Linked DNA regions of Homo sapiens. The protein of the gene in region 1 interacts with the protein of each later gene in a biochemical or structural test. Each region holds a gene or a part of one and is shown on either strand. Other genes may lie near its edges.

What was found.
Region 2: of the proteins of PRKCB (region 1) and RASGRP3, one has a biochemical effect on the other in vitro, tested with the Homo sapiens proteins (2 studies listed by BioGRID).
Region 3: the proteins of PRKCB (region 1) and RACK1 form a complex in vitro, tested with the Homo sapiens proteins (2 studies listed by BioGRID).

Annotation. Positions count from the first base shown.
Region 1 is NC_000016.10:24,090,955-24,094,704, forward strand, and holds part of PRKCB (protein kinase C beta type), read left to right. Parts: intron 1-1,836; coding exon 1,837-1,993; intron 1,994-3,208; coding exon 3,209-3,343; intron 3,344-3,750. UniProt on the Homo sapiens protein: Calcium-activated, phospholipid- and diacylglycerol (DAG)-dependent serine/threonine-protein kinase involved in various cellular processes such as regulation of the B-cell receptor (BCR) signalosome, oxidative stress-induced apoptosis, androgen receptor-dependent transcription regulation, insulin signaling and endothelial cells proliferation.
Region 2 is NC_000002.12:33,521,525-33,525,274, forward strand, and holds part of RASGRP3 (ras guanyl-releasing protein 3), read left to right. Parts: intron 1-430; coding exon 431-578; intron 579-2,354; coding exon 2,355-2,528; intron 2,529-2,907; coding exon 2,908-3,024; intron 3,025-3,750. UniProt on the Homo sapiens protein: Guanine nucleotide exchange factor (GEF) for Ras and Rap1.
Region 3 is NC_000005.10:181,241,684-181,245,433, reverse strand, and holds the start of RACK1 (small ribosomal subunit protein RACK1), read left to right. Parts: upstream 1-1,527; 5' UTR 1,528-1,633; coding exon 1,634-1,742; intron 1,743-2,057; exon of another isoform or gene 2,058-2,120; intron 2,121-3,088; coding exon 3,089-3,260; intron 3,261-3,544; exon of another isoform or gene 3,545-3,616; intron 3,617-3,750. UniProt on the Homo sapiens protein: Scaffolding protein involved in the recruitment, assembly and/or regulation of a variety of signaling molecules. Interacts with a wide variety of proteins and plays a role in many cellular processes.

The DNA.
Region 1 (3,750 bases):
TGCTGTGGATATTTTTCCAGCCTTTTCCCTATGGGCTGTCTGGGTGCAGGTTATGGGTGATACATGGATAATAGGTGCATCTTGGTTTAGAGGGTAACTCTTTATTTCTTACTGCACTTATGGAACACGAGAAAAAAAAGTATTAAATAATGGCTATGGTAATGGATATCTTTGTCTTATTCCTTACTTTAATGGAATTGCATTTATCATGAACCATGGTGCTGTTATTTCAGATAGCCTTTATCCTGTTAAAATTCTCTGCTGTTTCTAGATAACTACAATGATCTTATGGTTTTCTTCTTTGATCTATAAATATGATGAATATATTGAAAATAGATTTCCTAAGATTGAACCATCTTTGCATTCCTGATAGGAGTCATTATGTATTCACCTTTTAGCAGATAGTTAGAGTCGATTTGGATTGAATGTATTACTGTGGATTGTTCTACTGTAAGTGAGATGATTGACATTGTATCCTTAAGAGCTGTGCAATTCTCATTTTCTAGTCTGCTTCCATTGACTACCTGCATTACTGGTTTCTGAATTGATTCCTAATTAACTACTTCCTGTTTCTCCAAGCTGATGATTTAGTCTCCCTCATCCTTTCTATAGCCAGTTGCATCTTCACTGCTGATTCCCTGCCTCCTTTTCTCCTGTAAGTTCATCTTTTTTTTTTGACGGAGTCTCACTCTGTCGCCCAGGCTGGAGTGCAGTGGCATGATCTTGGCTCACTGCAAGCTCTGCCTCCTGGGTTCATGCCATTCTCCTGCCTGGGCCTCCCAAGTAGGTGGGACCACAGGCACCTGCCACCATGCCTGGCTAATTTTTTTGTATTGTTAGTAGAGACAGGGTTTCACCATGTTAGCCTTATAGCCTCTTTACCTGGGTGTTCTGGAGTCAGGGTGGAGCTGAGCTCTAATGCTGCTGACATTGTTCCAGCCTTCTCTCTATGGGCTGTCTGGGTGCTGGTTATGGGTGATACATGGATAATAGGTGTACCTTGGTTTAGAGGGTAATTCTTCCTTTCTTTAGCTTTTTCTTTTTGAATGGAGGTAAAATTAACGTAACATAAAATTAACCATTAACTGTTTTTAAACGTACAATTCAGTGACATTTATAGAATATTCACAGTGTTGGACAACCATCATCTCTATCTAGTTCTCAGAAATTTTCATCACCTCTAAAAGAAACCCTGTACTCATTAAGCAGTCACTCCCCATTTCCCTTTCCCTCCAGCCTCTGGCAACTATTAATAGTAGTCTACTTTCTGTCTCTATGGATTTACCTGTTTGGGATGTTTCATGTAAATGGAATCATACAATATGTGACCTTTTGTGTTGGGGTACACAAATGTTCATAGCAGCAGTATTCACAACAGCCAAAAAGTGGAAACAACCCAACTATGCATCAACTGCTGAATGGATAAACAAAATGTGGGATATCTATACAATGGAATATTATTCAGTCATGCAAAAAAATGAAGTGCTGATACATGCTATAATGTGGTGAACTTTGAAAACGTTATGCTAAATGAAAGAAGCCAGCCTTTCCTGTGGGCTTTGTGGAAAATAAGCTTAGAAAACTTACAGTTAATCTTGGTATGGGAAGAGCAGTGTAAAAGTCAGAAATCCATTTTTAACCAACACAGACCAGAGTTGACATCTTATCAGCCCATCTCATTTTGTGCACTGCTTCAGCTATGGATGTTAATAAAATTAAATTTCTCACTAAACAAGTGTGATGCCAAAGAACCTTCCACAAGTTCTGCAGCTGTCACTGCTTGGTGCTTAAACATGTTGGACAGTATTAATGCAAAAACTGCTTTTTCTTTTTCAGTAAGAGATGCTAAAAACCTTGTACCTATGGACCCCAATGGCCTGTCAGATCCCTACGTAAAACTGAAACTGATTCCCGATCCCAAAAGTGAGAGCAAACAGAAGACCAAAACCATCAAATGCTCCCTCAACCCTGAGTGGAATGAGACATTTAGATTGTAAGTGGAAATGACTGCAGTGAGCATGGGTGGTGGAGGTTGGGTTATGTGCCACCTGAAATCAGGGAGTTCCTCCTCCCTTAGCTCCTGTTTCCTTCCTTCCCTACCTCCCTCCTTTTCTGTCTTCTCCATCCCTCACTCCTATCTTTCCCTCCCTTCTTTTCCATCTGCAATTTTGTATTGTGAGCCAAGAAAAAAAATTAGAGCTATTTTTTTAATAGAGATGAGAATGCCTGTGGTGTGGGGGAGTGGGTAGGACAGGAAATGGTGTGATGTGTTGCTAAGTGAAGGCAAGTTGTGGGAGAAATGATGGGGCTCAGCAAATAGGGGAACATAACCTACAGGGTGTGGTGACAGCCTCTCTAGAGTTGGGTTTATGGATGATGCTTGGCCTGCAGCCTTCTGGGACATCTCCACCAGCCTCCCTTGAGGGTCTTCCCTGGCCAGGGCTCCAAGAATCTGGGAGTCTCTTTCTTGTACATCTAGGCATCAGGAGTTGGTTATAACAGCCAATTCACTGAGCATATATGATGTGTGACAAACACTGGGTTAAGCGATCCGACTTCATCGGCTCATTTTATTCCCAATGTAGCAATAGGGCTTATAGAGGTTAAAGAGTATGCCCAAAGTCCCATAGCAAATATGGGGTGGAGTGGGATTCAGCTTCTGGCAGTCTGACTTTAGCGGTCATACTTTTTTAGCCACCAGCTAGAAGCACAGTTCCTTGTCCTGTCTCCTCTTCCCTCTCTCAGGGCAAAGCTGGGCCCCTTCTCAGCCTCAGTCAAGGACATGTCTCAGAACAGACAATTTCCCCAGGATTTTTCTCCATGCATTTCCTCAGCCTCATTCTCAACCCACCTGTGTGCAGATATACACATGTACACACCCAATTATGCAATTGATATCTGTATTTCTTATAGGCAATAGGAATTCCTGAATATCCTGAACCCTATTAAGACATAAGATAACAAAAGTAGTTAGAACTGTTCTTGTCATAGCCAGTCTAAGACCTCTGCCTGTTTAAGCCACAGGCTGTCAAACAGAAAAAGCTCTCACTCCCTGGAGAGCTAGCCTGGGATGGAAACTGAATATGTTTCTTTCAGCAGCTTGTAATCTTTAAAACTTTCTACCTCCAGGTCTTGTCCTCTTGTACATTTATTCTGCTTGAGAAATTACTACAACCTCCACTGATGTCTTTTCTTTTTCTCTATGCAGTCAGCTGAAAGAATCGGACAAAGACAGAAGACTGTCAGTAGAGATTTGGGATTGGGATTTGACCAGCAGGAATGACTTCATGGGATCTTTGTCCTTTGGGATTTCTGAACTTCAGAAAGCCAGTGTTGATGGCTGGTAAGTAAGATTTTGCCTTGAAAGCTACCATACAGCTTGCTCCATCAAACGCGGGGTCAAGTATGTTTTCCTTTTTCTCCAAAAATTGAAATACTAAAACAGAGTCCCAAAGTGAAGTCTGGTTGATTGGATCTGCCTTGCAGATATGTTTTGTTTGGTCCTTGTACTAAAAACAAAAAAGAAAGAGGCCAGGCCTCGTGTCTGACACCTGTCATCCCAGCACTCTGGGAGGCCGAGGCAGGTAGATCACTTGAGCTCAGGAGTTTAAGACCAGTCTGGGCAACATGGTGAAACCCCATCTCTATCAAAAACATGAAAAATTAGCTGGGCATGGTGGTGTGTGCCTGTAGTTCCAGCTACTCAGGAGGCTGAGATGGGAGGATCACTTGAACCCTGGAGGCAGAGGT
Region 2 (3,750 bases), on another chromosome or scaffold:
GCAGCGAGGCCCAGGCCTCTGTCTTTATAACAAGCTTTTCAGATAGTTCATGTTATACTAAAGTATGAGAACCACAGCTTCTAGTGGTTTCCATGTGTCTTAAATCACCACCTATATCCTGATAAACTCCCAAATTTATATACTAGCCCCGACCTTTCCTGTATGATCCAGACCTTGCCGGTCACAAAGACACTAAGTAAGAAATTCTGGATGGTTCAGTGCAAAACCTACCCTGTCTGGAAAAACAACTGCAAGTTTATGTTCTGTTGGCAACTGGTCAGTGGTTTTCTCTTCCAATATGAAAGACAGGGCATGTATTTTGCACAAGTCCCTGGAAGCAAGCCAAGAGTTGCAGAGTCAGTAGGTTAATAACTTCCATTGAGTGAAATGGGCTTTCAACACATTGACCGGACTCACTCTTCTTTTATAGTCCTTCCTATGACTGGATGAGAAGAGTCACACAGAGGAAAAAAGTATCCAAGAAGGGAAAAGCCTGTCTGCTGTTTGACCATCTGGAGCCCATTGAATTGGCTGAGCACCTCACTTTTCTGGAGCATAAATCTTTTAGAAGGATCTCAGTAAGAAACTTGACATTTATTCTTCCAAGGATAACAACCACCATGCCAACTTTCCCAAGAGCTGCATTTTCATACTCTGAAGTGTTGGCAGCTTCTATCACTGTGCTCTGCTGGAGAAGTGCCCTTAATTCACAGGAACAATCCCTTTTAACCAAAGATAAATATTATCCTGTCTTTATTTTATGGCTCAGGAGCTATATTTCTGTCGCTATTTTCAATGTCTCCTTTCATAGGATTAAAGCGTGATTTTTCTAAACAGTCAGTGGAGATTTAACCATTCAAGGTTGATTTAGCTCCATTGACTTCTCCCAAGTGAACATGTTTTGCTAGGCCCTTCGTTTTTGGGAAAAAATATTTAGTTAGGTTCGGATTTGTATAAATGGCTAATTATGGGTATAGGTTGAAAATAGGAATTGTAGACTTTAAGGAGAATCTCAACATCAGGTTGTTTCTTTCCCAGAGATAGAGATCCTGAATTAAACTTTTCTTTCCTACTCATCTTGATGGAGCCTCATTCCTTCTCTAACTCCCCCTTTTCTTTCTCTGGTCTGTGATTTCTTAGCCTCCTGCTCTCTCTCCTCCCGTTATGGTAAACATTTTCCACACTGGTTCACAATCAGCCAGCCACTTTGCTTTGTCTCGCCAAGCTGTGGGGAAGTCGCTCCTCCTCCTTTTCCAAGGTGTCAGAGAATGAATTACATTATTGCGTGCAAAGAAGACTGTCTTGGTTAGAAGCATGAATTTCTGAAAGACTGATTCTTTCACTAAGTAATCCTACTTGGAGAGGACCTTAACAATTCCCCACAGGCAGGCCATGGGAGTCCCCTGCACAGTTTATATGATAGAAAGCTCTTATGTATTTTTTGACATCCATGCTAACATTCTGAAAATGTGTTTGCCTTGCTAAAGAGCAGCCTTACTTCAATTAATTTTTTTTCTTCTGTCTTCTTTTTCTTGAAACAACTTTACAACTGATGCTAACTTGAAATAATTATATTTACGTTCATTTCCTCGTCTTTATTGTATACCGTTATATCTTTAACTTGCCTGATTGGAATCACCAGCAGTGTGTTAAAAATGGAGATTCTTGGCCGGGCGCGCCTTTAATCCCAGCACTTTGGGAGGCCAAGGTGGGCAGATCATGAGGTCAAGAGATCGAGACCTTCCTGGCCAACGTGGTGAAACCCCATCTCTACTAAAAATACTAAAAAATTTAGCCAGGTGTGGCAGCTTGCACCTGTAGTCCCAGCTACTCAGGAGGCTGAGGCAGGAGAATTGCTTGAACCTGGGAGGCGGAGATTGCAGTGAGCCGAGATCGCGCCACTGCACTCCAGCCTGGCAATAGAGCGACAGTCGGTTAAAAAAAAAAAAAAAAGGAGATTCTTAGGTTTTTCTTCTGAAGATAGTGATCATTTACACCTAGAGTGTTCCCAGGAACCAGCATTTTACCAAGTGCCACAGGTGAATCTTATCACCTAGTAAATTTTGAACTCATTGGAATACAACTTTGAATCTTGCCTCTTTCTCCTCCCACCAAAGCTGTGATGTGTAGTAGTGGGTGTCTTTGCGTGGGGTGAGTAGTGGGGTTTGAAAAGCAGCAAAATAACATTTTAAAGACACATGTATATTCAAACTTTTAGGATGCCATTGTAAATGTGAAATAAAAGAAATTGTGTTGTTACGAAACAATATCTCACCTTTTCTATGCAATATTCTAATTTTTGATTTTACAAAGGCTCTATTATAATTCAGAGTCTCTGAATCTTCCTTTCCTAGTTCACTGATTACCAAAGCTATGTCATCCATGGCTGCCTGGAGAATAATCCAACCTTGGAAAGATCGATTGCTTTATTTAATGGAATCTCTAAGTGGGTCCAGTTGATGGTTCTTAGCAAACCAACCCCCCAGCAAAGGGCAGAAGTCATCACAAAGTTTATCAATGTTGCAAAGGTATGTCTGGTAATCAGACTGGGTTCTTGAGTTCTAGATGTTCGTTCACTCTGTTGAGAAAAGTCATTGAGGAAATGTGGCGTTCACAGTATAAGGGCATCGGACAACTAAACTACTCGCTGATATCTAATGAACAAATCGTATTTTTGTCATGCAAGAAGATTGCTTTCAGAAAGCAATGCTTAGAAGCATTTAATGTAGCTATTTCTCTGTGAAATAATAGATATATTTCTCTGATTCTATTTGTGCTTCATTTTAAATTGATGTAATGTTTTCCTTAGCTTCTTGTTATTAAAATTGTGCATAAATTTACTTGTAATTCAGAAAGTTTAGAATAATTTGAAAATCCTTAAAAAGCATTGATGCATTTTTATTGCAGAAGCTCCTTCAGCTCAAAAATTTTAACACCCTGATGGCAGTGGTGGGAGGCCTCAGTCATAGTTCCATTTCACGCCTCAAAGAGACCCATTCTCATCTTTCTTCAGAAGTTACAAAGGTATAGTAGACTTGATCCTAATCAAAAGTAAAAAAATGCATTTGTAAATTGTTCAGGTTTAGTATACGCCTAACAAATGTCACTCAGAGTGGGAAAGTTTTCCTCTTAAACCAGTGGTAGGTTATAAATGGGGACAAAGTAGAAAGGGAATAACCACACCAGCTGAGTCCACCTGGAAAAACAGGTTGGAGGTGGTGGTAAGTGTCCTAGGAAGAATGCTTTGACATACCATTAGAATACTGTAGTGGTGGCCGGGCACGGTGGCTCACACCTGTAATCCCAGTACTTTGGGAGGCTGAGGCGGGCGGATCACAAGGTCAGGAGATCTATACCATCCTGGCTAACGTGGTGAAACCCCGTCTCTACTAAAAATACAAAAAAAATTAGCCGGGTGTGGTGGCAGGCACCTGTAGTCCCAGTTACTGGGGAGGCTGAGGCAGGAGAATGGCATGAACCTGGGAGGCAGAGCTTGCAGTGAGCCGAGATCACCCCACTGCACTCCAACCTGGGCGATAGAGCGAGACTCCATCTCAAAAAAAAAAAAACCAAAAAAAAAAAAAAAAACTCAACATATTGTAGTGGTAAATATTCAACAGGTATCTATTTGGTCCTACTATGTGATAGGCATTGTGATACACAAGGTAAATAAGACAGAAATAGTTCCTACCCTACCTCCTGAAATAAAGTCATTGAATGACTATTCATAACACTGTGTTGGGCACATCA
Region 3 (3,750 bases), on another chromosome or scaffold:
TAAAATAAGGCCTGGCACCCAAGAGGTGCTAAGTTTCACAACATTTACTCTGCCTTGTTCAGGGCGCTTTACATTTGCTTCTTCACTTTCCACACCACCATGTAATGTAGATACTAATATTATTTCCAATCTCATTTCACAGATGAGAAACGAAAGTTGATAGATGTCACAAATAGAAAAGTATATACTTAGGTATAATGCCCCCTTTATTTTGCATAGATGTTGGTGGCTGCTATCATCCTGATCTGTGCCCCTGTTTAAAACTACTTGAATAGACATGGTGCCAACACTGTCTCTTATAGTCAGAGATGGGTGAGAATGGGAGCCATTACTTATTTAAATTCCTGCGGTCGAGCGGAAGGCAGAAGGACAGTTAGGTATCCGTGTTCCACCGCTTCCCTGTCTGGGCACGTCCTTCAGGGCACAGTTGGACCCCCAGACCCCTGGGCTTTTGTGTACGCTGGCTGGGCCCAGAGAGAGCTTTCCACTAGATGTCCCCAGAAGTCAGAACCTTAAGGTCCTCCTTTGGGCATTTCCGTTTCTGCGAGAGCTTCCCGTGTTCTGGCCTAGGCAGGAACGGATTGGCAGTCTAGCAACACACAGGGCAATTTTTACTTTATTATTTTATTGTATGTATGTATTTATTTATTTGAGTCGGAGTCTCGCTCTGCTGCCCAGGCTGGAGTGCAGTGGCGCGATCTCGGTTCACTGCAACCTCCGCCTCTCAGGTTCAAGGGATTCTCCTGCCTCAGCCTCCCGAGTAACTGGGATTACAGGCACCCCCCACCACGCCTGGCTAATTTTAATTTTTTTTATTTATTTATTTGGAAAGAGGTTGCATCATGTTGGCCAGGCTAGTCTTGAACTCCTGACCTTAAGTGATCCACCCGCCTCGGCCTCTCAAAGTGGTAGGATTACAGGCATGAGCCACCGCGCCCGGGAAAAAGAGACCAATTCTTAGTTCATCCAGAGTAACCCTCTCCTGCCTTAGTCCAGCCTGGACTAAGTCCTTCCGGAGTTGGTGTGCATCAGAACAAAAACCTCGTGAGGGGAGAACACCCTCCGGAAGCACAGTTTTAAAGTTTATTTTTAACATTTTAATACTCTACTTTTTAAATTGCCCATCGTTACCCACGATAGTGAAATGAAAATTAAGCTCCCCTGGGGTTGCCCCGTCAACCCTCCCCGCACCAAGTGGAACAGGCGGAGCTCGAGCTATGCCACATAGGGGCGGGGAAGCAGCCCGGCGGTCCTCATGGGAATGTGCCGTACACTTCACCTCTTTCGCTTCTCGCTCTACATCATCCCTGAGAAGCCTTTTTAAACACTTGAATGTGCTTGTTTCAGAGTGTATTTGTAAAGTGCAGTCAGATTTTGTTGTACGGAAGACGGGACTGTGATGCCTTGCAATTTCCCTCTGCCTTTTGCATTACATGGCGCCGCCATCTTGAGCAGAAATGTATCATGGGGCTCGCCATTTTGCATGGTCGAGCGGGTATTTCCGGTTCCGGCGGGGGGCTTTTCTCTCTCTCTTTCACTGCAAGGCGGCGGCAGGAGAGGTTGTGGTGCTAGTTTCTCTAAGCCATCCAGTGCCATCCTCGTCGCTGCAGCGACACACGCTCTCGCCGCCGCCATGACTGAGCAGATGACCCTTCGTGGCACCCTCAAGGGCCACAACGGCTGGGTAACCCAGATCGCTACTACCCCGCAGTTCCCGGACATGATCCTCTCCGCCTCTCGAGGTACGGACTAAGGTAGATTTCAGGACCCGAGATTGCAGGGCTGGGGGATTCCGCGTGTCGTGTAGGGAATTCCGCGTGTGGTGTGGCAGGCCGGTGGCGCGCGAGTTGGCGGGGACTGACAGACTTCTCTGCCCCATTGTGAATTGGGGCGTGCGGACCCGAGCCTAGGCCTCAACCCGGGCGAACCACATTGCAGATGAGAACCTACGTGTACATCAGCTCGCAGCTGCTAGGAGGGTTGGAGAGTTGGAAACTTTTAAAATATCTTTTGCCTTCTCCTTCGTAGTGTGGCCGGGGGCCTACGGGCCGGGCGGGGCGGTGATGACCCCAACATGCCATCTGAGTGTCGGTGCTGAAATCCAGAGGCTGTTTCTGAGCTGCCGCCCGGCCCAAGGCTCGTGGGGAGGCAGGTGGACTCCAGAGGACCTCGTGGCTCAAGTGTCGGCCTACTTTTTCTGCCCCTGGTTCTCCCCGTCCCTATCCCTGTGTTCCTGACTGCGTTTAGACGCTTCTTGTGCTTCCGCTTTGCTGCTACACTGTTAAGAATTGTCTGACTTTTGAATCATGTCTGGCTGTTAATCGTAAAATTTGTTGAGTGGGACAGGTTTCAGTAAAAGCATCCAATCCTGTAGCGCCTGAAGTGGCTTTTCCAGCATTCATTACTACATTTCTGTCGGCCCTCAGAGGTAGGCATAGGAGGCCCCAGCTACTCTACAGCCACAAACTGCTGTGCATTTGGTTGCAGAGAAGACACAAAGTGGCTGTTGAGTTCGTCTGAGTTTCAGGAAAGGGTGTCTGTATTTCTGGCACCTAAATTAAGTTCTCAGGATACAGGCTGGGCGCGGTGGCTCACGCCTATAATCCCAGCACTTTGGAAGGCAGAGGCGAGTGGATCACTTGAGATCAGGAGTTAGAGACTAGCCTGGCCAATGGTGAAACCGCATCTCTAGTTAAAAAATTAGCCAGACGTGCTGGCAGGTGCCAGCTGGCCAAGTAATCCCAGCTACTTGGGAGGCTGAGGCGGGAGAATTGCTTGAACACGGGAGGTGGAGTTTGGAGTGAGCCGAGATCATGCCACTGCACTCCAGCCTGGGCGACAGAGCGAGACTCCATCTCAAGAAAAAAAAAAGTTATCAGGGTACAGTTTACCTCTACGTGCGTTTTTAGTCTGGAATAGAGCCACTCAGTCCTGGTCTGTAACTGCTCTTGTCTGTTGTTTCCATCCCTCCTTAAGCGTCCTTAGTTGTTGTTAACCCACTCATGACCTTGACACTTAGTGAATTATCCAGTGTGTTAAACGGGCTGCGGGTTCCTCACTGATTTTTCTTCTGTTTTACCTCCTTTAGATAAGACCATCATCATGTGGAAACTGACCAGGGATGAGACCAACTATGGAATTCCACAGCGTGCTCTGCGGGGTCACTCCCACTTTGTTAGTGATGTGGTTATCTCCTCAGATGGCCAGTTTGCCCTCTCAGGCTCCTGGGATGGAACCCTGCGCCTCTGGGATCTCACAACGCAAGTAGCTGCTCACTTAGCTCTGGGGCCTTGGGAAGAATCTGGGCAGAAGTGAGGTGGATGCAATTGGCTGGTTTCCCAGGGGAGATCCAGTCCATTTGGGAACTGGAAAGCAGAGCACACCTACAGAAGATGTTTGGCCTCCCTCACTTTAAATAAGTTACTCAGCATTGCTGAGGAGTGTGGCTGAACATTTTTGCCAGGTGCAAAAGTTCTGAGTGGGCAGCAGTTTGAACATGTTTTACCTTGAAAGCTCAGGTAATTGGCAGGTGGAATTAGAGGGTCCTGGTGATGACAGATGGCATTGTCAGCCAATCCCCAAGTGGGAGTGAGGACATGTCCTGCAATTCTGAAGGGATTCTCTGTCACTTGGCTCTTCTCTTTCATATACTCAGTCACTTGACTCTGTGATCAGAGCCAAATCCAGGGTTGTATGAGTGATGCAATGAGACAGAGACAAAGCCCAGGAAATGAGTCTGACCGTTGAATG